Linked DNA regions of Homo sapiens: region 1 is linked to region 2. The links come from fine-mapping of genetic effects on gene expression. A gene starts in region 2. The other region holds a variant in brackets. All regions are shown on one strand. Distances are between the middles of the regions. Region 1 overlaps EIF2B3 (eukaryotic translation initiation factor 2B subunit gamma). Region 2 holds the start of RNF220 (ring finger protein 220).

The links. PIP is the estimated chance that this variant, and not a neighbour inherited with it, causes the effect.
Region 1: its variant is the best candidate, but not a certain one, in a credible set for the expression of RNF220 in whole blood (TOPMed, PIP 0.65).

What each region holds. Positions count from the first base shown.
Region 1 is chr1:44,932,183-44,944,680 of GRCh38, reverse strand. EIF2B3 (eukaryotic translation initiation factor 2B subunit gamma) reads left to right here. Exons shown (of 12, transcript NM_020365.5): 4 at 3,016-3,175. It also overlaps the pseudogene RNA5SP47. Among named protein-coding and RNA genes, the nearest start is that of EIF2B3, 48 kb to the left of the region's middle. The variant CT/T (reference allele first, on the strand shown) is at 5,811.
Region 2 is chr1:44,398,711-44,411,208 of GRCh38, reverse strand. RNF220 (ring finger protein 220) reads right to left here and starts at 5,954. Exons shown (of 15, transcript NM_018150.4): 1 at 5,679-5,954. RefSeq lists enhancers at 2,096-2,772, 4,539-5,061.

The sequences.
Region 1 (12,498 bases), 530 kb before region 2:
CTAACTTTTAAAAAATTTTATTTGCTAATTTAAAAAATGTTTTATGTATTTTTAGAGATGGGGTCTTACTGTGTTGTTCAGGCTGGCCTCAAACTCCTGGCCTCAAGTGATGCTCCTGCCTCAGCCTCCAGAGTAGCTTGGCTTACAGGTGCAAGACACTGTGCCAGGCCTTTTTTTTTTTTTTTTGAGACAGCATCTTGCACTGTCACCCAGGCAGAAGTGCAGTGATGTGATCATAGCTCACTCTAACCTTGAACTCCTGGGCTCATGCAGTCCTCCTGCCTTGGCATCCCAAAGCACTGGGATTACAGGTGTGAGCCACTCTGCCCAGCCTAGACTTTTTTAAAGTAGCATAATTGGTTTTCCAAGACAAAGCTTATCCAGAAGCCTGGAAAATAAAATTAATAAAAGAGGAGCTGCCTTGGTTGATTCACGAAGGGCAAATCAGAACCTGCCTTTCCCTGAGGCACCTCTGGGATTACAGGCATGTGCTACTGTGCCTGGCCCTAAACTATGTTTCTTTTTTTTCTTTCTTTGGAGATAGAGTCTTGCTCTGTCACCCAAGCTGGAGTGCAGTGGTGCTATCTCGGCCCACTGCAATTTCCACCTCCTGGGTTCAAGCAATTCTCCTGCCTCAGCCTCCCGAGTAGCTGGGACTATAGGCATGTGCCACCATGCCCGGCTAATTTTTGTATTTTAGTAGAGATAGGGTTTCACTGTGTTGCTCAGGCTGGTCTCAAACTCCTGAACTCAGGCACTCCGCCCACCTTGGCGTCCCAAAATGCTGGGATACAGGCATGAGCCACTGCGCCCAGCCTAAACTATATTTCTTTAACACTATTCAGTAATACAGATTCTTTAGTTATACAAATAGCCATTACTAATTGTTAAATCTTAGTTACATAACTACTATAAATCTGTTTCTTCGTTGGTAAAGTGCTAATAATAACAGCTCTGGGCTAGGCGCGGTGGCTCACGCCTGTACTCCTAGCACTTTGGGAGGCCAAAGTGGGCAAATTGCTTGAGTCCAGGAGTTCGAGTCCAGCCTGGGAAACATAGGAAGACCCTGTCTCTACTAAAAATAAAAATAAAAATTAGCCAGGTGTGGTGGGGCACGCCTGTAGTCCCAGCTACTAGGGAGGCTGAGGTGGGAGGATCACTTGAGCCCAGGAAGTCGAGGCTGCAGTAAGCCATGATCATGCCACTGCACTCCAGCCTGGGTAACAGAACAAGACCCTGTCTCAAAAAAACAAAAATTTAGATATAGATATAGATATAGATATAGATATAGATATAGATATAGATATAGATAGTTCTTCCTGCATATGGTTGTTGTGAAGATTGAAATATGTTTTTGGCCAGGCGTGGTGGCTCACACCTGTAATCTCAGCACTTTGGGAGGCTGAGACAGGATTGTTTGAGCCCACCAGTTCAAGACCAACCTGGACTACATAGTGAGAAACATAGTGAGACCCTGTCTCTATTTTTTTTTTAATTTAAAAATAAAATTAAAATAAAAAATAAGGCCGGGCGTGGTGGCTCACACCTGTAATCCCAGCACTTTGGGAGGCCAAGGCAGGTGGATCACGAGGTCAGGAAATCAAGACCATCCTGGCTAACACGGTGAAACACCGTCTCTACTAAAAACACAAAAAAAATTAGCCGGGCGTGGTGGCGGGCGCCTGTAGTCCCAGCTACTCAGGAGGCTGAGGCAGGAGAATGGCATGAACCCGGGAGGCGGAGCTTGCCGTGAGCCGAGATCTTGCCAGTGCACTCCAGCTTGGGCAACAGAGGGAGACTCTGTCTCAAAAAATAAATAAATAAAATAAAATAAAATAAAATAAATAATGTTTGCAAAGTGTTATCACAATTCCTGGCCAATAGTAAGCATTCAGTAAACATTAGTTATCATTGTTAGTTTTTATTATAATTAATCTGAGATATTAGAATTATAATCAGGCATGGTAGCTCATGCCTATAATCCCAACACTTTGGGAGGCCGAGGTGAGTGGATCATTTGAACCCAGGAGTTTGAGACTAGCCTAGGCAACATAGGGAGACACCATCTCTACAAAAAATGTAAAAATTAGCCAAGTGTGGTGGTACATACCTGTAGTCCCAGCTACTTGGGAGGCTGAGGCAGGAGGATGACTTGAGCCTGGCAGGTCGAGGCTGCAGTGAGCTGTGACCGCACCGCTGCATTCCAGTCTAGGTGACAGAGTAAGACCCTGTCTGGAAAAAAAAAAAAAAAAAAAAAAAAAAATATATATATATATATATATATATATATATATATATATATAAAATCAGAAAGCCCACCAATAAGAGAAAACCTTTTCTTCGTTGATTTATTCATTCATTTGTTAAACAATTATTAAATACCAACTGTGTGTCAGACACTGGTAACAGGCCTTATTTTTCTCAGCTATAAAAATAGAGGCCAGTAATATTAATAATAACAATGCCTTTCTGTCATTCTTATGCTATTTTTATAAGATTGAATGGGTGCCTTGTACATACCTGAGGTTACATTGTAATTATTTACTATAGAATGTTAAGTTCCTAAGAATGAAGCATTGTATTCTGTTCATCCTGTTATTTCCTAGTACTGTAGTAAAGTGATTGTTCTTTGCCATATTAAGTCATCAAACTATGTGAAAATGCTCTTTTAAACTATAAAGAGATGTATAAATATAAGATCATATATTCCATAGTCATAGAAATAGACAATGTGGTGGTTTTCAGACTGTTTCTTAGAACCTAGGGTTCCAGAGATGTCTCAGGGACTGCCCACACAGTTCCTGAGGTACACAAGGGAGAGGTAGAGTTTCCAGACCCTATACCAGCACAATTCAATGAGAACAACCCCATTTATTTTACTTGTTTGGCTATGAAAAATGCTTGAAGAGTATTGTCTGATTTGTGTGGTTTTAAGCCATCCTAATTTTGTCTTGTGATGATTTGTGTAATCCATTGTCCTTTATGATATTGACTTTTCCCATCTCCATTTAACAGACAGATGTGCTGGTGCTGAGCTGTGATCTGATAACAGACGTTGCCTTACATGAGGTTGTGGACCTGTTTAGAGCTTATGATGCATCACTTGCTATGTTGATGAGAAAAGGCCAAGATAGCATAGAACCTGTTCCCGGTCAAAAGGGGAAAAAAAAAGCAGGTAAGGAAGATTGGAGTTTGTTTTGTTTGTTGAGTTTTCGTAATTATTATTCTCACTCATGCTTTCCCTGAAAAAACATTTATTAAGAATCTACTATACATCACAGATTCTGTGCTAGGAGTTGATGACATAAAGTCAAATAAGACACAGTCCCTGAATGGAAAATGCTTAGAACTATTGATTAGATTCTTTAATGTCCTTTTGTATGCAGAGAGGAACATTCAGAACTATTTGCATTGTATTTAAGGCTCAAATAATTGAATACGTATATCTAAGAAACAAACAAACAAAAATCCAATTTAAAATTAACTTTTAAAAATAGGCCAGGTGCGGTGGCTCACACCTGTGATCCCAGCACTTTGGGAGACCGAGGCAGGGGGATCACAAGGTCAGGAGTTTGAGACCAGCCTGGCCAACATGGTGAAACCCCATCTCTACTAAAAATACAAAAATTAGCTGGGCGTGGTGGCGTGTGCCTGTAATCCCAGCTACTCAGGAGGCTGAGGGAGGAGAATTGCTTGAACCCAGGAAGGGGAGGTTGCAGTGAGCCGAGATCACGCCACTGCACTCCAGCCTAGGCAACAGAGCAAGACTCCATCTCGGTGGGGGGAGAAAAGGAATTAAAGTTACTATCACAAATTTAGTATGGCTGGTTCTTTCAATGCTTCAGTCACCCTAAATGACCAATAAATGTGATAGTTGTTTCTTTTTCTTTTTCTTTTTCTTTCTTTTTTTTGAGATGGAGACTCGCTCTGTTGCCAGGCTGGAGTGCAGTGGCACCATCTCGGTTCACTCCAATCTCCACCTCCCGGGTTCAAGCACTTCACCTGCCTCAGCCTCCCGAGTAGCTGGGACTACATGCACATGCCACCACACCCAGCTAATTTTTGTATTTTTAGTAGAGACGGGGTTTCACCATGTTGGCCAGGATGGTCTCTTACTTATCTCTTGACCCCGTGATCCACCTGCCTCTGTCTCCCAAAGTGCTAGGATTACAGGCATGAGCCACTGTGCCCAGCTGATAGTTGTTAATCATGCTTATCTTCCTAGGATTATAACATACTTATTTTGATTGTAACATACTTATTTTGATACTTATTTTCCTAGGATTCTAGTAGTCCTTTTATGGGTTTAAATTTTCCTGAATGATGTGTTTTTTTCCTTGAAGTTTTCCTCTGGAATGATGTATTCTTTAGGTTTTGCTTTGCCAGCATTATGTAACCCACTATTTTGTCATTATTATATGTTGGCATATTTTGTTACAATTATTAGACTATGTATAGCTTATTAATTTCTTACTATTATTAATAGAGCCACTGAGAGCCTTCATACTTAGGATTTGAATAATCTAGTTAATATTTTAGGACGTTTGGTTAAATTATAATTTTCCAGTATAACATTGAAACTTGTTTCTAGTTGCTTTTTGTGTTCAGATGATCACTGGTGCAGATTAATTGTTGGATACTTTTTCTACATTATTGTTATGTGATGATACTCATGCTGATCAGTCTTTTTGTTCTTCATATAGTTTCTGCTTTTGCAAGGTCTGGTTTACTTACAATTCCCTGTATTCATTCTTTTCTGCCTACACAGATAGAAATAAATATATAACCAGATTTTATAAACAGATATATGTTTCATAATTAATTTTTTTGTTTCCTTTGTACTCTATTTATAAAAATCAATTAAAAAATCAACTTATTCTTCTTGTCATTAGAACTTTTCTTTAAATTTTCTCCCTTTTCATAGGCATTGATAAAACTTTTTAATACACTTTATATATAGTTTTTATGTCTTAAGTATCATTATAAATGCACAGATTTTCACAATTCCTTTTCTTTTATTGTAAATTTAACAATTTATAATTGTATAAATTTATGGGATACAAAGCGATGTTATAATTTATGTATACAATGTGGAATAATTAAATTAAACAGGTTAACATATCCATCCCTCAAATACTTAACATTTTTCATGGTGAGAACATTTGAAATTTACTCTCTTAGCAATTTTGAAATGTACAATACTCTTGTTAACTATATTTACAACATAATTCTATTTTAAATTAACTGTAACTATTAGCTACCTACCATCCATTTTTAAATGTTTTCATGCTTAAATTGTCAGTTTGGCCAATGGAAGTCCTTTAAGCTGGATCCTTTATCCTCTGAAAAAGTATGATGTATACTGGTAACTTTCTATAGCTGGAGTGTGAATATAGGAGGCAGAGAAGCAGATAGGACTGGAGAAGAGCCAGATATCAGACGAAAGAGTTTGAATTCTTGCCCAAAACAGTGAGGAAGTTGTTGAAGTAAACAAGATAGTGTCATAATTAGATTAGATTAATGTTTTAAGAAGATTTTTCTTTCCTTTTGTTTCTTTTTTTTTTTTTTTTTTTTTTTTTGAGACAGGGTCTTACTCTGTTGCCGAGGCTAGAGTGCAGTGGCTCAATCTTGGCTCGCTGCAAACCTCTGCTTCCTGGGCTCAAGCAATCCTCCCACCTCAGCCTCCCGAGTAACTGGGACTATAGGCACTCGCCACCATGCCTGGCTAACTTTTTGTATTTTTTGTAGGCACAGGGTTTCACAATGTTGCCCAGGCTGGCCTCGAACTCTTGAGCTCAAAAGCAATCTCC[CT/T]GCCTCAGTCTCCCAAAGTGCTGGGATTAGAGGCATGAGTCACCACACTTGGCCTCTTTCTTTCTTTCTTTTTAAAAAGATACTGGGGGGCACCATGGCTCAGGACCGTAATCCTAGCACTTTGGGAAGCTGAGGCAAACAGATGGCTTGAGCCCAGGAGTTTGAGACCAGTCTGGGTAACATGGTGAAACCCCATCTCTACAAACAATTTTTTAAAAATTAGCTGGGCATGGTGGCTTGTGAGCCTCTAGTCCCAGCTACCTGGGAGGCTGAGGTGAGAGGATCACTTGAGCCCGGGATGTCGAGGCTACAGTGAACCATGATCATGCCACTGCACTCCAGAGTCTCACTCTGTCCCAAAAAAAAACAGAGAGAGAGAGAGAGAGAGAGAAATTAGGTCTCATTATGTTGCCCAGGCTGGTCTCAAACTCTTGACCTCAAGCAATTCTCCCACCTCAGCCTGCCAAGTAGCTGGTATTACAGGTACCAGCCATCACTCCTGTCAAGTTTTCATTCTTAATATGAAATTTTAAACTTCTCAATACCTATATTTTGTTACATTTGAAGGCTAAGATTCACCTAAATAATTGAGTTTTAAATTCCTCCCATAGAATGCTATGCATTTCCATCATAAGCATTTTTTAAAGAATCGTAAGTTTTTCAGATTATATATTTGGCATGCCTCTTGGCTGCTGTTGTGTGCCAGAACAGCCTGCAGTCCACTGTTTCCCAGATATTGTTTAATAGTCTAGATCTTCTAGACCCAACTTCCTCAAATGGCGTTCTTACTGACTTATAGGGGAATGGCTAATCTCTGGATGTTTCTGGAGCCACCTTTCTTCCCCTTGCACTTTCTTCTCAGAAAATTTATAGGAGATACTGATACTAAGAGGGCAGGATCAAATTCATGTTTAGACTTTTTGGAGTATTTCATTCCTGCTGCAGGTCTTTTTTTTTTTTTTTTTTTTTTTTTTTTTTTTTTTTTTGAGACGGAGTCTCGCTCTGTCGCCCAGGCTGGAGTGCAGTGGCGCGATCTCGGCTCACTGCAAGCTCCGCCTCCCGGGTTCACGGCATTCTCCTGCCTCAGCCTCCCGCGTAGCTGGGACCACAGGCGCCCGCCACCACGCCCGGCTAATTTTTTGTGTTTTTTAGTAGAGACGGGGTTTCACTGTGTTAGCCAGGATGGTCTCGATCTCCTGACCTCGTGATCCGCCCGCCTCGGCCTCCCAAAGTGCTGGGATTACAGGCGTGAGCCACCGCGCCCGGTCTGCTGCAGGTCTTTACACAGCTTCCTTGCCTGAAATGCTCTCTAGTCCCTTTCTCCTCCGAACACATATATTCCAAATCCAGCTTAGCCTTCAAGTTATTTCTGAGAAAGACCTATCCTGACCTTTTAATATAAACTATATCCTTTTGTTTGCCTACATATAGCAGCCTGCTCTCTTATTTACTCTTTCCCCTACTGGACTATAAGCTCCATAAGGGAAGGGATCATATCTGTTTTGTTTATTTTATTCCCAGCACCTGGCCCAGTTATGTCCCATGGTGAACAATCAATAAATATTATTGAATGGCCTGCTTATAAAGGCAGCTCTTCTTGCCCCCCACCCCAGGTAAGTGAAGATAGACCTGAGCACTAGCAGTTTAAAATCCTAAAGATGTTAGTCTGAGCTATAGTTGGATTCATAAGTAGGTATTACAAGAGCGCGTGAGCTTGTAATGCTTTTAGCAATATGGATCTAGCAGACTGATACTGACTACATTGTCTATTAATTTTATGTTTAGAAATGGTTTCAAGATTTTTAAAAAAATACCCAGCACTGCACCATGATTGTTAAGAGCACAAGGTCTATAGAGTTCAGACTGGGTTTCAGTGCTCAAAAGCTGTGGGATTTTGGGCAAATTACCTTGATCTTCATGAATTTCATTTTCTTCTGTTGTAAAGTGAGCCTGAATCCTTTCAGGATTTTTGTGAGAATTAAATGACATGTTTATAAGGCATGTGGCCCATTCGTTACCTGAAAGATAGTAGATGCTTAATAATTTGTAATTACTATTGTAATTTGGTACTGAAACTTAACAAATCTCATTTAATAACTTTGTAAACATTCTATATCACATATTTATTTCATGTAAAATGGCAGTACTTTAAAAAACCACAGAATATCAGAGTGTTTTTGTTTGCATTTTTACCATAATAGCTTGTAAGTTTGAAGGGAAACTCATAGTGACAAATGTCTAGACAAGCCTCTCTGGAAGGCTCACATGTAACTTTTTTTGAGACAGAGTCTCATTCTGTCACCCAGGCTGGAGTGCAATGGCGCGATCTTGGCTCACTGCAACCTCTGCCTCTCGGGTTCAAGCAATTCTCCTGCCTCAGCCTCCTGAGTAGGTGGGTTTACAGGCGTCCACCACCACGCTCAGCTAATTTTTTTTTTTTTTTTGTATTTTTAGTAGAGATGGGGTTTCACCATGTTGGCCAGACTGGTTTTGAACTCCTGACCTCAAGTGATCCACCCGCCTTGGCCTCCCAAAGTGCTAGGATTACAGCCATGAGCTACTGCGCCCAGCCCACATGTAACTTTTCTAGTGATTCAAACAGCCCTGCTTTCTAGCATTTTCTAGAATGTACCAACTTTTGAAAAAAAAATTTTTTTCTCAGGAAAGAAATGGACAACTTAGAAGTGTAAGCAAGACCCAGAAACCCAGCTAAGGCTGTGCGGGGAAATGGGGTTCTAAACTCTGAGAAACCTCATTTCTTTTTTTTCATCAGTAGATACCATTATTATTCAGCCATTGTCTCGCCATTGCTTGATACTACTTACTGAGTGAAAGGGTGAAGAGATCAGCTTACCACAGTTACTGAGTATGTATTATGCCAACTCCTGAACTAGGCACCAAGGCTATAGAAACAGAAAAAAAAAAAAACCAAAATGCCACAATATCCCTACCCTCAAGGAGACACAAAAAAGTGTTCATTGTACTCTCCCCAGTCATAGGGCATTTTAAGAAACTTGGAGTCTGATGGGGAAAATTAGACTAGGTATTGTGTTTTTAAAAGAATTTACAGGCTGGGTGCAGTGGCTCACGCCTATAATCCCAGCAGTTTGGGAGGCCAAGGTGGGAGGATCATTTGAGGTCAGCAGTTTGAGACCAGCCTGACCAACATGGTGAAACCCTCTCTCTCTAAAAATACAAAAAAATTAGCTGGGTGTGGTGGCACATGCCTGTAGTCCCAGCTACTCGGGAGGCTGAGGCAGGAGAATTGCTTGAACCCGGGAGGCAGAGGTTGCAGTGAGCCAAGATCACGCCACTGTATTCCACCCTGGGCAACAGAGCAAGACTCCATCTCCAAAATAAAAAAAGAATTTATAAAAGCCTCTCATTTGTAATTGTTTACATTCACAAACATCAAACAGTAAAGACGACACATAGAGAATTTCAGTGACACCGTATATGCATATATATCTTAAACTTGCAATAATATGTAAAAATAATTTGTTTTCCATCCCTTGTTAGAAACTTTCCTTTTCTCAATTTCAGTGAGAAGATAATATATTTATATTGCTTTATTGCAGATAATATGTTTATTAGGGGGCTTTTTTTCCTGTACATTCCTCTATGTAATTGTTTAATACTATCATGATTTAATGACACAAATCATTGACTATTGTCTCTATAGTCCCACTGTATCTCTTGGAATACTTGAAATAGAAAATGTTCTAGGAAACTTTATTTAACCAATCCAATTCACTGTAGTATTTCCCAAACTCCTTAGTTCTCAGAGTTATATGGCCTTGGCCCAGACTAGAATCAGTACATGTTAATGTACTTCAGAACCATGAGTGAAAACTCTTACTTGGCTGTCACCTCTTAATCGGCTTAGCTCCCTCTGCACTAACAGATGTTGGCAGGCAGTTCTGAGCCTGTACAGTATTTCTTTTGCTACAGCTTTCTTTACTTCTCTTGAAGCTGTACTACCAAAAAAAAACCTGTTTGGGCTTCTGTGTTAACTATTTTCTCCTCTCAGTCTTCCAAATCCCACCCCATTTTAAAAAATAAAGTGGGCCAGGCGTGTGGCACACACCTATAATCCCAGCACTTTGGGAGGCTGAGGTGGGTGGATCACCTGAGGTCAGGAATTCAAGACCAGTCTGGCCAACATGGTGAAACCCTGTCTCTACTAAAAATACAAAAATTAGCTGGGCGTGGTGGTGGGTGCCTGTAATCCCAGCTACTTGGGAGGCTAAGGCAGGAGAATTGCTTGAACCTGGGAGGTGGAGGTTGTAGTGAGCTGGGATCACCACTGCACTCCAGCCTGGGCAACAAGAACAAAATTCCTTCTCAAAAAATAAAAATAAAATAAAAAATAATAAAAAATTAAAAAAATTTAAAAAACAAAATAAAAATAAAGTGACTTGAAATTCCTACATACTCAAAATTGAATTTTGTTTTGTTTTGTTTTGTTTTTTGAGACAGAGTCTCACTCTGTCACCCAGGCTAGATCGCAGTGGCACAATCTTGGCTCACTGCAACCTCTGCCCTCCGAGTTCAAGTGATTCTCCTGCCTCAGCCTCCCGAGTAGCTGGGATTACAGGCGCCTGCCACTGCACCTAGCTAATTTTTTGTATTTTTTAGTAAAGACGAGGTTTTACCATCTTGGCCAGGCTGGTCTTGAACTCCTTACCTCGTGATCCACCTGCCTCAGCCTCCCAAAGTGCCGGGATTACAGGTGTGAGCCACTGTGCCCAGCCTGTTTCACTCTTGTTGCCCAGGTTGGAGTGCAATGGCACGATCTTGGCTCACCGCAACCTCCACCTCCTGGATTCAAGTGATTCTCTTGCCTCAGCCTCCCTAGTAGCTGGGATTACAGGCATGTGCCACCATGCCTGGCTAATTTTGTATTTTTAGTAGAGACGGGGTTTCTCCATTTTGGTCAGGCTGGTCTCAAACTCCCAACCTCAGGTGATCTTCCCGCCTCGGCCTCCCAAAGTGCTGGGATTACAGGTGTGAGCCACTGTGCCCAGCCATAATTTTCTTATTTACCAAGTGTTTGTCTTGTTTTTTATGGCCTAATAGCATTTTGACCTAATAGCATTTATGGCCTAATAGCATTTTGTGGACAGTTGCTCGAGATAACATCAGTGGTAAGTGGTAAGAGCCAGAACTCAAACCCATGCCTTCTGATTCCATAACCTGTGCTATTTCTTTTTTGAATTTAGTTTTTATCTTTATCAAAGTTTTATATGCCCAAAATTTAAAGAGTATCTAATTATCTAAGATATATTATAATAAATAGCAGCCCCTCACCCTATCTATCCTCACCCCACTTAGAGATGCCACTTTCAACATTTTCAGCTAATTTTTTGGCATTTAACTCCATATCTCCAAATAACGTGCTTTTATTTTCTGTGTCTTAATTTTTTTAGCTTTAAGAATTATCTGTTCACTTCTTACTATAGAATGTAAAGATTTGGTTCTATTTTACCACATGCTCTGCCCCCACTACATGTATGCAACCTTGTATTTGGCCCAATTTCCTAATATAGTTATTCATATTGTATTATTAATTAACTGAATATTTTATGTTTATATTATCATGACTGTATAAATAGTATTCACAGTTGAGCCTTGTAGTATATGATTACTTTTCTCTTTCCTCCTTTTGTTTTCCTAAAGATTGTCTTGTTTTTTCATTTGCTTGTTTTTTATGTATTTGTCACTAATTCAACCCAAGCTCCAATTGTGTGAATTTCCTCTCCTTACATTGCAACACACTAGATGTCCTCTCAATTTCAAATTCTTCAAGGTACCTCTCCTAAAGCTTTTCTAACCTGAGTTAGTTGCCCTGCTGTAGAGCTGTCATTTTAGGTTCACCCTTCACTGTCATATCTTGAACCTCACGTTTTCTTCTTTCTTACTTTATACCCACATTTTCTGTAGGACACATCCTCTGGAAGCCTCCTGAGGTACAGATTGTGAGAAGTAAATTTTTGAGCTTTTGTATCCCTGAAAGTGTCTTTATTCTGCCCACATATTTGTTTCATATTTTGGCTGGATATAAACTTCTCTTGGAAATCATATCCCCTCAAAATTTTGAAGGTTTTTTGTTTTGTTTTGTTTTGTTTTGTTTTACTGTCTTCTAGCTTTTCTTTTAAGAAGTCCAACATCATTCTGATTCTTGATTCTTTGCATGAAACACTTTTTTCCTCTTTTTCTTGGGATGGGAGGGGGAGCTTATAGGATCTTTTTGTTTCCGAAGTTCTTCAAGTGAGAACACTTAAAATCTACTCTCTTAGGAATTTTCAAGAATACAATACATTGTTACTAACTAGTCACCAGGTTGTATTAGGTCTCTTTATGAGCTTATTCCTCCTAAGTGAAATTTTGTATTCTTTGACAAAGGTCTCACAATAGTTTTTTGTTTGTTTGTTTGTTTGTTTATCACATGGTATTCCTAAGCAGACTTCCATGCAAGTACTAACTAGGCCTGACCCTGCATAGATCAGATGAGATCAGATGCCTTCAGGGTGATATGGCTGTAGACTTCCCACCCCCACCCAGTAGTCTAAGTTTCTGGTTTCTTTTTCTTGTCTTACTGTGCTGGCCAGGACCTCCAATAAAATTATGTGTACAAATGATGCTAGTTGGCACCCTTTTCTCATTCCTGATTTTAAAAGGAATATT
Region 2 (12,498 bases):
GGGTGCCTTTGGCATACGCTCTCTAGAAGCATCTGTCTTCTAAGGGCAGCAAAGAACAGATCGGTGATTTTAGTTACTAATGCACTCACTCTTAAGTAGATTTGTAAACTGCCTTGGATTTGCCATTAACATTTAGAACAAAATGTTAACAAAATTTCTGACTTATTTTGCTCTGCTTATTGGCCCAGTCAGAGCTGATGTCCAATAAAGGCCCCCGGAACAAATTGGAGTTCGGAGAGACTTCTTTCAGTTTCCCTTGTAAATTTAGGTTGTACATTTTCATAGTCAGTGGTTCCATTCCAAAGTGTATTTTGAGTGGGGGCTGGGAGAAGGGCTATATATCAAAAGCCGGGACAATATAAGATGAATACCAAGACTTATTAGTGTCAAAAATATACACGAAATAGAAACTTAGTGAAACTCAAAGCATAACCAAAAATCACCGTCTGCTACAAATTATACCTTTAAATTGAGAGTCATATCAGAAATAAAATCTACCTCGTCCCTTTTAAAAAGCCCACCTGGAGTATCTTTGGTATTCCCTCAAACAGAGAAACATCAGTTAAACGGTAGATGAATCCTCCTGGCTTAATGCAGTGCAAAGAGAGTATTTCCTTCTCCCATCCTGTAGCAGACATGTCAATGACTGTTATTAATTGGGAAGATGAGTGGACACCATCAGACTGCTTCCTCATTTGGCATCTTTCCTTATAGACATCATTGCTAAATTACCAGATTATGTATCTCACATTAACGGATTTTTCTCTCTTCCAAATTTTAAATAACTTTCCTGTCAAGTTATAGCAGTGCAGGGAATGATCTGCCAAGGACAGCCAGTTAGGCTGACAAGTCTGGGAATCCTGTTCTTGGCTGTTTTCTAGTCAGATTAATGGTCATACAACATGGACGCTCTGAAAGTGGGTCTAGGGCTGTTCCAAGGGTTCTAAGCAGCTCTTCACAACAGAAATAGCTACTTATCTATCAACAAGCAATATTATATGAGGAAAACTGGAGAAAAGAAATGTGAAGGGAGGAATGTTTCCCCCTCAAAATACGACCCCCCCCAGGATTCACTTGCTATTTTTACTTCCTAGATCACCTCATTATCTTAAATGAGTTTCATAAATTAGGAATCTGGTGACAGCACCGGACACTCCAACAGAACCTGGTGAATCACTCAACCCTGGTTATTCATTTGAAAACTTCATTACACTGAAAATAAATCAACAATATTTTTCCAGGCCACATCTCTTTTACTTCATTGCGTGGGCGTTGGTCTCCATGGGGGAGGGGGGAGTGCTTTTTTTCTTTTTTTTCTTTTCCCTTTTCTTTCTTACCCTCTCCTCACATTAACAACTTGTATAGATGAGGCTTCAGCTGACCACAGTCATTATGAAAATCTATAGTTAATACACTCCCAATGTCAAAATGTCATGGGTTTAAACACAGAACCCAAAATAAGAAAACTAACTGACCCTCTTAATTAAAAAAATATGGATTGTAAGATAATCAGCTTGATGGAGCATTTGGGTGACTGTGAAGAACCCGGCAAAGGGAAAGTAAGTAACTGTTACTTTTCTGCCTCTATGCTGATTTTTTTTAATTTAGCACTTCGTGCAAATCCAGATTAAAATAACTCCAGCTATTGATCCGAGCAGTGGAATTGACATTAATTTTAGTTCACTTCTCACTTTGCAAAGGGATCAATAGGAAGTAATAACAGCTGACATCCCCGCTGAAAGGAGGAGAAAGAAGGGCTGAAGACAGAAATCGAAAAGCAACCAAATAAATCATCAGCTACTTTTCCACGGCATCAGACAAACTCCAAACAGATTGCAAAAAGTCTTTGTTGAATTAACTAAACAAGGAGGAGGGATCAATCCACGAAGCTAAATAAATTGTCTGGCAGGCAGTGAGGTTGGACGGAGGGACCAACAAATATTGAGTTAAAAAATTTCAAATCCTTGACGTGATGGGTTTGGTTCAGTTCCGTATCTGTGGGAGTTTGTTTGTTTCTTAAATCACACTCCTGACCCTGGTTTAAAGTGATTGCAAAACGCCAGCTATCTGAATAATTAGTGAGATTACTAATTGCGTGGTTAAACACGCCAGAACCAAGACAAATGAAACGAAGACGTCCGCGTTTGGAACGTGAAAATGTCTGAGGCTGGGCTGATGCGCAGCGCTCCGCGCTCTGCGGAGCGAACTAGCCACTTTCGCACAGAAAAACCGAAAGCCCAAGAGAAAGTCTCAGAGAGTAGGTAATCTCCCATCCCAGTCCAAGGTCTGGGCTTCCTGACCTGCGCCCGGGATCGGCATAGAAGGAAGCGGTGCTGCTGCCCCCTCTGCCTCCGCCGTAGCTGAGAGCCAAACCCCTTTGCAAATGACTGCCACAAAGAAAGCTGCAAAGGGCTCTTTCCCGGAGCCGAGCTCAGGGCGCCCACCAAACTACGGCTCTGCTGGCAATTAAAATGCACACACAACACTCCTCTGCTTATTACAACAGGTGACAGTTTTGTGGTCTCTGAACCGTTTCCAAAAGCCAGGAATTAAAATAATAGAACAAATTAAACGATATTTTTCCTTTGCATAAATAAACTTTTAAAAAAATTAACAAGGAACTTAAAAAGCAAAGAACAATGGGAAATGAGGCAGAGTAGTGGGGGGTTGTTAAGAACGCAGGAAAAAAATTTTTTTTTTAAGTTCACAGACTTCTTCGCTTGAAGAGAATTCCCGCACACCAAATGCCCAGGGGGTATTTGGAAACACCGCTCTAACAGAAATTTTACCACCATATGCGAGAGCTCAGGGAACATAAGGCTAACACAGTTCCCGGGCTAGGGCCGACGCCTGTGTTTCAGGCATGGCCGGGTATGGTCCCAGATTTGGACCCGGGTTCAGGCCCAGCTTGGCCAAAGGGTGCGAATCCGAGACAGCCCGGGCCAGTCCGAGAGTGCGGGGTCGCGGGATACTGGCTCAGCGAGCGGGTGCATTATTCAGCTCGGAAGAGTCTCGACTGGGAAAAAAAATCAACTCTTTTAGGGAAAACGGGGGAAGAAGAGGTGAAGGCGAAACCTACATAAACTTGGGCCCAACGCGGAGCCGAGCCCACTACTCTTTGGCCCGACCTCTCCCTCCGGCTCTCGGTTGCCTTTGTATATAGAATACTCTGGGTCCCAACAACCTCCGCACGAAACAATCTGCGCCCAACTTTGGGCAACCAAAGCGCCAGTCCAGGAAGAACCGACACGTGCAAGGGCCCCTGGTCCGCAGCCGCGCGGGGCCCGCGGGGCAGGGGCTCAGAGCTGCCAGCCTTCGACCAAAGTCCAAGGACCTCCAGCCCCCGAGCAGCCCCGCCCCGGGGGTCACCCGGGTCCCGCCGCCGCGCGCACCACCGCTTCAGCGGGCAGCCGCGGACTCCTCCACTCCCGCTTCTCCTGCAAATACGGACCGGCGCGGGGCTGCCGGGCCCTTCCAGCTCCTGGACTGCGGATGCGCAGTGCGGGAGGGAGGGTTCTGCGGCCCGCACCGCGGCCGTCCGGCCGCCGCACACCGCGCGGCTCGCAGAACAGGTGTGTGTCCCCGCTCGCTCCGCGCCCGGCCCCGGCCCTGTCGGCCACCAGCGGCGCGACGCGGCGCCGCCCCGTCCTCGGCCTTCCCCAGCCTTGCCTCGAAGCGCAGCAAGCGAACTCACGCCACTTTTGCCGGGTCTCTGCGGGCCAGGAGGGATCGGCACGGAAGACGCCAGCACCGCTCTTCCTCGACGCTCTTTCTGCCTTTCCCCCCTCTGCTCATTCCCCTTTGCAGGAAGAGCCCGCGAGACGGAAAGAGGAGGCCAGGCAAGGCAAAGCCCCCCTGCCCACTCTGCTCCCCCCAGTCCCCTCGCTGCTTCCTCACTGCCGCCCTTTTTTTTCTTTATTTTTCCTTTCTCTCCCCTTTGCCCCTCAAGCCGAGTCCGGAGCGGAGGCGAGAGGCAAGATGTGGCTGCTGGGCGTCGTGGGCAGCGAGTGCGGTGCTCTCCCCCTCGGCGGCTCCCGGGCCAGTGGGCCGGCGCAGACCCCAGACGACCCGGGCCGGCCAGGTAGGGCTGTGCCCCCACACCTATGGCCCGGGCCCCATGCACCCACCCAGTGCGACGCGCGCCTGGCTCAGGGCCGGAACACGGGCTCTCCGCTGGAGCTGCATCCACGACCCGAGAATGCAGGGTGTGCTTAACGGGAAGCGAGAGCTTTCCCCCTGCCTCCTGGCTGCCCTAGTCCCCGCTACTTCGGGACTCCTGCGCGCCCTCGCCAGCTGGGGTCGACCTGGGCCGCGAGCTCTCGGAGAGGCTCCTGGACTGGGGGATGAACCGGGCATCCCCTCGGATGGCCTCACCACCGTGGGCGGCCTCGCCCGGGGGGCCACACGGAAGCTCTCCGCCCAAGTTTGTTGTGCCCTGGAAGAAAAGGCTTTCTCTTACAAAGCACAAAGGCGAAACGCCCAGGCCGAGCCCTGAAAAGCCCCGGGTTGGGGGGCGGGGGTGGGGTGGGGGAGGCCGGAGGCTCCGGAGTGCGGTGGCGGGGCTGGGTTCCGGGCAGAGAAGGTCGCTCGGCCCGGGCTGACAAGCGCGGCGGCAGTGGCCGCAGGACCGCAGCGACCGGCGTGCTCACTGAAAAGTTTTGTTCTTAAGTCAGAAGAGAAATTGTTACTCAGTTTAAGGCAGGTCTAAGATAAAAATAAAACTACAAGTAGAGTAGTCAAGTAGCCCTCGTCTCCACGATCGTCCTCCCGCCTTGCTCAGTAGAACCGCTGGGAGAGGGGGTCCCGACCCCGAAAATCCCGGGAGATCCCACGTGTCGGGCTACTCTACGGCCAGGCCGGTCCAGCCCAGAGGAGTGGGGAGTTTACCGGTGGCGTTTAGAACGGTCCGCCTCTATGCTAGCACCTGCCTCCTTCCTGCCCGCAGAGGATCCATCCATCCTACCCCACCTCCCTCCCTCCACACCCTTCACACCCGCCCCCGCTAGGAAAAAGTCAGCCGAGCACCCGGGGTCCAGGGCTAAACAGCCACTCCCCGGGTATCCCGCGGAGCCGGCTGTGTGTGGGGTGGAGGCTGTCGGGGTAGTTTCTCATTCGGCTCGCCCCTTCTCCATCCGCCCGCCGCCTCGGGCTCCCCACTGAGTACCACCCAGCCCTGGCCTCGCCGGAAATCAACGCGGGGTACATAGGGGAGCCCGGAAATCACCGGGGGGTGCACCAGAGAGCCCGGCGAGAAGGCATTCTCGATATCGACCCGAACAAAGTGGGAATGGGGCTTATTAAGAGACGGAGAAAAGAAGTCCTGCTCCCTTCCCTTGCAGTGCCCTCACCCTCCCAACTTGTCCAATTCCCGCGTCTGGTCCCTCCCCCTTGCACCTCCCCCCCTCCCCAAATAAAACACATTAAGGAAAACTCAAGACGGAAAGTTTGAGCGAGGCAGCGCACGGAGCGCGCAGGGCGCCGATGCCGAGAGGCTCCGTCGCGATGATCCAAGACGCGCCAGTCCGAGTCCCAGTCCCTGCCCCCGTCCAGAGGGAACCGCCCGAATCCCTAGGAAACGGACCCGGAAAGTTAGCCAGGTTCCTGAACAAGCCGGCCGCCCTCGCACCCACCCCTCTTGGGTACGCACACACGTCCACACCCCTTTCTGATCTCCATACTTGCCGTGGAAATTCCTTGGGAGAACGGTCGCACTTTTCAGGACACGGAGGGAAGCAGGCGGAGAGTGTGGTGCATGAAAAGTCCCGGGTTCGCAGAGCCGGCGGAGGCAGCGGCGGCGGCGGCGGCGGCAGCGGCAGCAGCAGCAGCAGCAGTAGGCGGCTGGCCCCGGGTTTGTGTTCGCGAGCTGCCTGGGATTGCATGTACAGATCAAGAGACTCAGTTGGCGTGAGAGAAGGAGCAGTGCTGCCTCTCAGCGCTGGATCTAATCAGTGAATGAGCCTCCACTCTCCCAGGGACTCGGAGACACACACACGCGCGCACACACACACGCACGCACACATTCTCTCACACTCACACACATACAGGCACTCTGAGCACTGAATACATTAGGGCACTAAGGGACTCTGGGAAATGAAGTCCAGACCCAGGGCACTCCTGGAGAACAGACCTGCTGGCCCTCACCAAAGAGCTTGGAAGTCTTGGGGTCGCGAGCCATTGTGAACTAAAGAGAGCGTTGGCTTTTGTTTACATCCCTCCTCCCCCACCCGCAAAGGTCTCAGTGAATGGTTTCGTGCTTGTTGTTCTTCCTTTCCTGAACCAAAAGGGACCAAGAGTAAATGGGCAAAGCTTGAAGACTGACATCCACTGCTGCTTAAATGACCCCCAAATCCTGGGTCCCTCAAAATCTCTGTCTTTTCCCAGAAAAATCTTACCTGCTGCTTTGTTCCTGGAATGCTTCTCTGGGTCTTTGACTATAATAATAAATAATAAATGAATATTAATAAAACTGTAACTTTTGGAGGAGGTGAAGGCCTAGTATAGCATCCAGATGTGAGAATAAAATTTTTTATTGGTGTTTTATTGATGTTTATATTACAGTTCATTTCAGATCATTTCATATCATCCTATAATTCATCAAACACAAAGATAAACAGGGGAAATGGATAGAGAACTAACATTCCTGAGTGCTTTCTAGGAGCCCGGTTATGAGACTAAATGCCTTTACATAATTTCATTTACTCCTAAGATTAATTCTGGAGATAATAATATTACCACTAGTTTATAGAAGAGGAAACTGGGGTTGAAAGGGTTTTGTAATTTGCCCATGAAAACGTGGTTAACAAGTCTTGGATAGCAGGTAGTTCTAGTTCTGAAAGCAAAGTTCAACCAAAATCAAATCCTGGTTTAAGAAGTCATTCCTGGCCGGGCGCGGTGGCTCACGCCTGCAATGCCAACACTTTGGGAGGCCGAGGCGGGCGGAACAAGAGGTCAGGAGTTCAAGACCAGCCTGACAAACATGGTGAAACCCTGTCTCTACTAAAAATACAAAAAGTAGCCGGGCGTGGTGGCATGCGCCTGTAATCCCAGCTACTCAGGAGGCCAAGGCAGGAGAATCGCTTGAACCCGGGAGGCGGAAGTTGCAGTGAGCCGAGATCACACCATTGCACTCCAGCCTGGGTGACAAAAAAAAAAAAAAAAAAAAAAGTCATTCTTTTGTTTTGTAGTTAAGTGTCTAAAACCTCAGATTTCTCATCTGGAAAAAAAAAAGGGAGGGTGGGGAGAAATGGAGTACACACTGATAATCCACTTTACAGAGAACCACATAGGATTATAAATTGTCTAAAAAGAATGAGACTCAAAATCTCATTCTTGCTATTATTTCATTGTCCTTTTTACTTATGTTTAACATTAAGGTAGCATCTAAATATTAAGTATGTTTATGTATATGTGTGCTGTTGGTATTTTAAAATTTTAATTGGCAACTCTAAATAAATTGTTAATTTGATCACTTAGAGTTCTACATTTACAACTATTTCTATAATTCGTGATATCAGGATTATTTGTTGAGGAACTTTATTTTTATTTATTTATTTTTTTTGACATGGAATCTCACTCTCTCGCCCAGGCTGGAGTGCAGTGGTGTGATCTTGGCTTACTGCAACCTCCGCCCCGAGTTCAAGCGATTCTCCTACCTCAGCCTCCCAAGTAGCTGGGATTACAGGCATGCCCCTCCATGCCCAAATAATTTTTAGTAGAAATACGGTTTCACCATGTTGGCCAGGCTGGTCTCAAACTCCTGACCCCAAGTGATCCGCTTGTCTCGGTCTCCCAAAGTGCTGGGATTACAGGGGTGAGCCACCACGCCTGGCCTGTTGAGGAACTTCTAATCCATGTTTAATCATTCATTCATACACCAGCATTTATTATGTTAGGCTCTATTCTTTCCACTAAATTATTATTTCCTGCTGGATTGTAAACTTCATGAAGTCAAGAACCATGTTTGTTGCATTCTACATCATACCCTAAGCACCTTACAGCATCAGTCTCTTAGTTGAATGAATAAACGAGGATATAAAAATGAACTCCTGTCCTCAAAGAGCTCACCATCTAGTAGAGGAGACAAAGAAAGAGTTAGAAATCAATTTGATAACCACTGTAATAAGGATGACCTTAGAATTTATTGATCTAACTGAGACAAGTTTGATGATAAAAAAGGGACACTTTTAATAATTACACTGGGATGACAAATGTCAACAAGGGCCATCCTGGGCCAAGCAGATTGAATGGTCACCCTAGCTACATAAGGTATTTCATTCATTCATTTAACAAGCATTTATCGAGAACTCTCTTGCCTGGTGTGTTAAAGGAATTATAAGCCACTGATTTCCCTCAAAATTGAAATATGAAACATTGAGCAGCAAGAGATAGGCAGGAGAAGTGGGCCAAATCACAAAAGGCTTTGTATACTAAGCTAAGGAAAGTGGATGTTATCCTACAGATGATGAGAAACCCCTAGAGGGTTTTAGGGGTGTGACAGGGTAGGATTTCTGTTTTAAAACAAGCACTAGTTCCTGGGTGGACAAGGTGGAGGTTAGACAAGAGGCAGGGAGGCCAATCAAAAAGTCTATCTCAAGTAATTCAGTTGAGATGAAGTAGGGCCTGAACCAAGGTACTGGGGCAGAGTGAGTGGAGAGGAGGGGACACATTACAGTGAGATCTAAAAGGTAGAATCAACAGGATTTAGCCATTTTAGTATGGTGGATGAAGGCAGAAGGAAGACTCTATATAAATCCTAAATAAGATTTTATTATTTATAGCAAAAGATGTTGTCAGTACTTTAATGTTTATCAGTAGTAAAAGGCTCCCTCAGACTAACTTAGAGAGTTCCCGTAGATCCAGTGCACATTCTCACAGATAGATGATACAGATAAGAAGGCCTGTTCAATCATCAAGCCAAATATTTTTAGCTGTTACCACATGCAGTGGTCCTCACTACGATGCAAGTACTCAGAAACTAGAATTAATCACTGTCTATAACAGCAATCTAAACGAATAAATTAAATGCAAATCCCTCATAAAATCAGAGCAAAATTATGTAATGCAAAATTGAATATGTAATACCTCACTAATTCACAGGTCATATGTCCAGCAACCTCAGCTATCCAAAACACAATGAAGCAGGAAATAAGCAAAAAGGGTCCCAGAATAGCCAAAATAAACATTACAAAGTCCATGCACTAAAGTTAACACATTTCCCTCCTAGGAGAATTACACAAGCCTTCATTCAGAGCCGATTTATTCTTTCTTAGGTACAATTCTAATAAGCTTGATTATTTGGCTTTCCCATTCACAGCTGATTAAGATTGTCAAATTAAAAGGGGGCAGCCATTAAAAAGAATGATATAGACTAGGATGTATTGACATAGAAGGATACCTATTATATACTGTCGAGTGAGAAAAGCAAGTCATACAACAGTATGTACAATATGATTTGATATTTGTCCGTATACGTGTACACACACATTGACAGAAAAAGGCCTGTAGGGATACATTAAACCGTTAACAATGGTTATGGCTAGGGAGTGAAAGTGTGGACGTGACAGGGTGGGGGGTTAGACAGGAATGAAGGGAGGACTTTGACTTTTTACTCCATAGACTTCTGTTTGTTTTCAGTGAACATATATTAGTTTTGTAATTTTAATATCCGTTAAAACGTATATAAAAAGAGCAAAGGGTAGTGTTGTTAGAGCAAGAACACTGACAATGAGAAATGGTGACCGAACTATAAGAAGCAAGCACCATAACTCAAAAACTACAACAAAATAGGGTTATTTGGTGTGAAGGCAAAAAGCCCTATCCCATCAGTGCTCCCAGCGGATGTCATGAATTCCAACCAAACATATCCTGATACTTTTGGGGATAGGTCATCAAGGAACACATTACACTTAGTATATTTTACTTATGAGAGTAAGCACACGTGTGAAAATATAGAAAAATAAATTCCTACCAAAATGATTTAAACAGAAGATTTTGATACTTTAAGAAGTAAATTTCAGTTGTCTGGAAAATATACTTTTGTGTAACACATCATTCCCTGAAGATGAGAAGTAAAGGAGATATCACTTTATATAAGAACAGAGGTGATGCAGAGTAAGGAATGGTCCACAAATTCAACAAACATTTATTGAGTGTCTACCAAGTGCCAGTCACTAAGAATAGAAAGATAAATAATAGTGCCTGCCCTAGAGAGGTTTATAGTCCAACAGCAGAGATGGATTGGAAAGCAAATACATATGGCACAATGAAAGCAGTGCTATAATGGATATTCTGAGTATAGGGTGGTAGAAACACAAAAGAAGGAGGTGCTGAGTCTGCCTGGAGCTATTAGGAAAGGAGGCAGAGACAGAAGTGGGTGTTTTAAAAAATAACTATCATATGGGATGACATTTAAGCTTCGTTAAAAATGACTGTTATATGGAATGACACTTAAGTTGGGCTTTGAAGGATAAGTAGTTTATCAAGGGAGAAAAATAGGAAGAGCACTCCAGGATGAGCAAATAGCGTATGCAAAGGCACATGAAATTTCCTGCCACATTCCGATAGTACATCTCAAATTTTTCCTCAAGAAAGAGGTGGTGCAGGTGGTGATGTCTAAGGGCAAGCCTAAAATGGCTTGCCACTAGCTTGAAATTTATGTATCCTGTTTTATCTTGAAAAATGAATGAAAATTTTGCCTTCAATTCCACAAATATATTAAGCTTTAATATAAAACCATGTTTTAAATTACTTATCATTTGATAGAACTGATGCTCCAGAAAGATGCACCACATTTATTTGGTGCTTTCTCACATCCAAAGCACAACACTAAATAAACCAGGGGCATTCATTCCTAATTTGAAAAACATTCAGAAATTGGGCTGGGAGCTGAAAAAAAAGATGTAGAAGATATAAGGGGAGACTGGAAAAATAGATTAATGGACTGTGAAAGATCTTGTTTGTCACATTAAGGAACTAACTGGACACTCCCAGTGTCTAGCCAACTCCTATTTATACTTCAAGACTTTGTTTGGGATGGACTCTTCCAGGAAGCCACCCTGCCCACCAGCCTCTCTTCTCCTCAAATCTGATTATCATAGCAGTCTATGCATGCATCTATTCATTTATCACATTGTACTGGAATTATCGATTGTTTTCAGATTCCTCTAATAGACTCTGATCTGCTTAAAGCAGAATTCTGTCTTAGTTGTTTTGCGTGGTACTTAGCACAACAGATACTGGTGTCTGTCGGACTCAACTGATTTAGATAAAAGGACAAGATTCAGAAAGTACTACCTGGTCTAGATTCTAAAGCTTCTTGAAGGTAGGGCCTGCTTGCGTACCACTGCATCCCAAACACTTCACACTCACTGGAAACATCCAGTAGGTGATTGATAAAAAGTGCAGAATGAATGAGTGAAAATTCTCAAAACAGGAATGACATGATCAGATCAGGGTTTAGAAAAATAAAATTGGAGGCAATTTTAAATGTAGACTGGAGACGAGTAAGACTGGAGACAAAGAAATTAGGGAGAAAAAATGCAAAAGATACATAGGACAAATTGGTAAAAGATTGCCTTTTCTTAAAAATGTTTTTCTAATTGGCTAATTTGATTAGATGTTTATATTTATGTTACAAGACTGGTCTTTTTATTCTCTTAGGATTTCCTGATGGAGGATATTCAGTTGCCTTGTTCCCTGACCCCAGCTGCCTTCAGGCTGGTGTCTTCTTGTACATCTGGAGGTCACTGAGGGCAGTGACTATGTCTTATTCATCTTAGTATCTCCAATGCCTAGGACATGCCTGCTCAATAAATGTTTGCTGAATGAATGAACACATAAATTGATCTATTAGTATACTGTACTCAAGCTCCGACCAAGACACAGAGGACCTAATGATCCCCAGTGTGTGGGTTTCTGGATACAGGAAACAGAACAAATAAAGCAAGACTGGATACAAATGCACACCTATTCCACAGGTAACACAGGGTAAATTTCTCTCTCTGACCCTTCCATCCTCATTCTGAAGAATAACTCTCATTGAGTGAAAATCAATAAAAGTCATTTTAAGGGAAGTAGGTTTAGAAAAAGGCCCTGAAGGAGGAGCAAGGAGGAGGGGAACTTCAAGTTTGAGCAATCTGGACTTTTAAAATATATATATAAGGACTTGTAAGCTTCAAAAAACCTTCACAAAATAAAAAGTCTGCTTTTCTACACTCACTTTCAAAAGGAATCTCCCTCATCTATGCCCAACACATAAACCAGGAGACTTTTTGAGATTTCCAGTTTTATCACCCAAAAAGAAAAAATAAATTCACAGTAGAAATAATAAATCCTCCATTTTTCATATTGACTCCAACAAGAAACTTTCTGAAGTAGTTGCAGGTAGCTCCCAAAGACAGTCAGCCAATATCAATGCCAAGATTGACCGTCTGGCAATCTAGCAACAAATATTTACTGACTACATACTATGTATGAATCAAGGCAGTAGGAAGAAGCTGT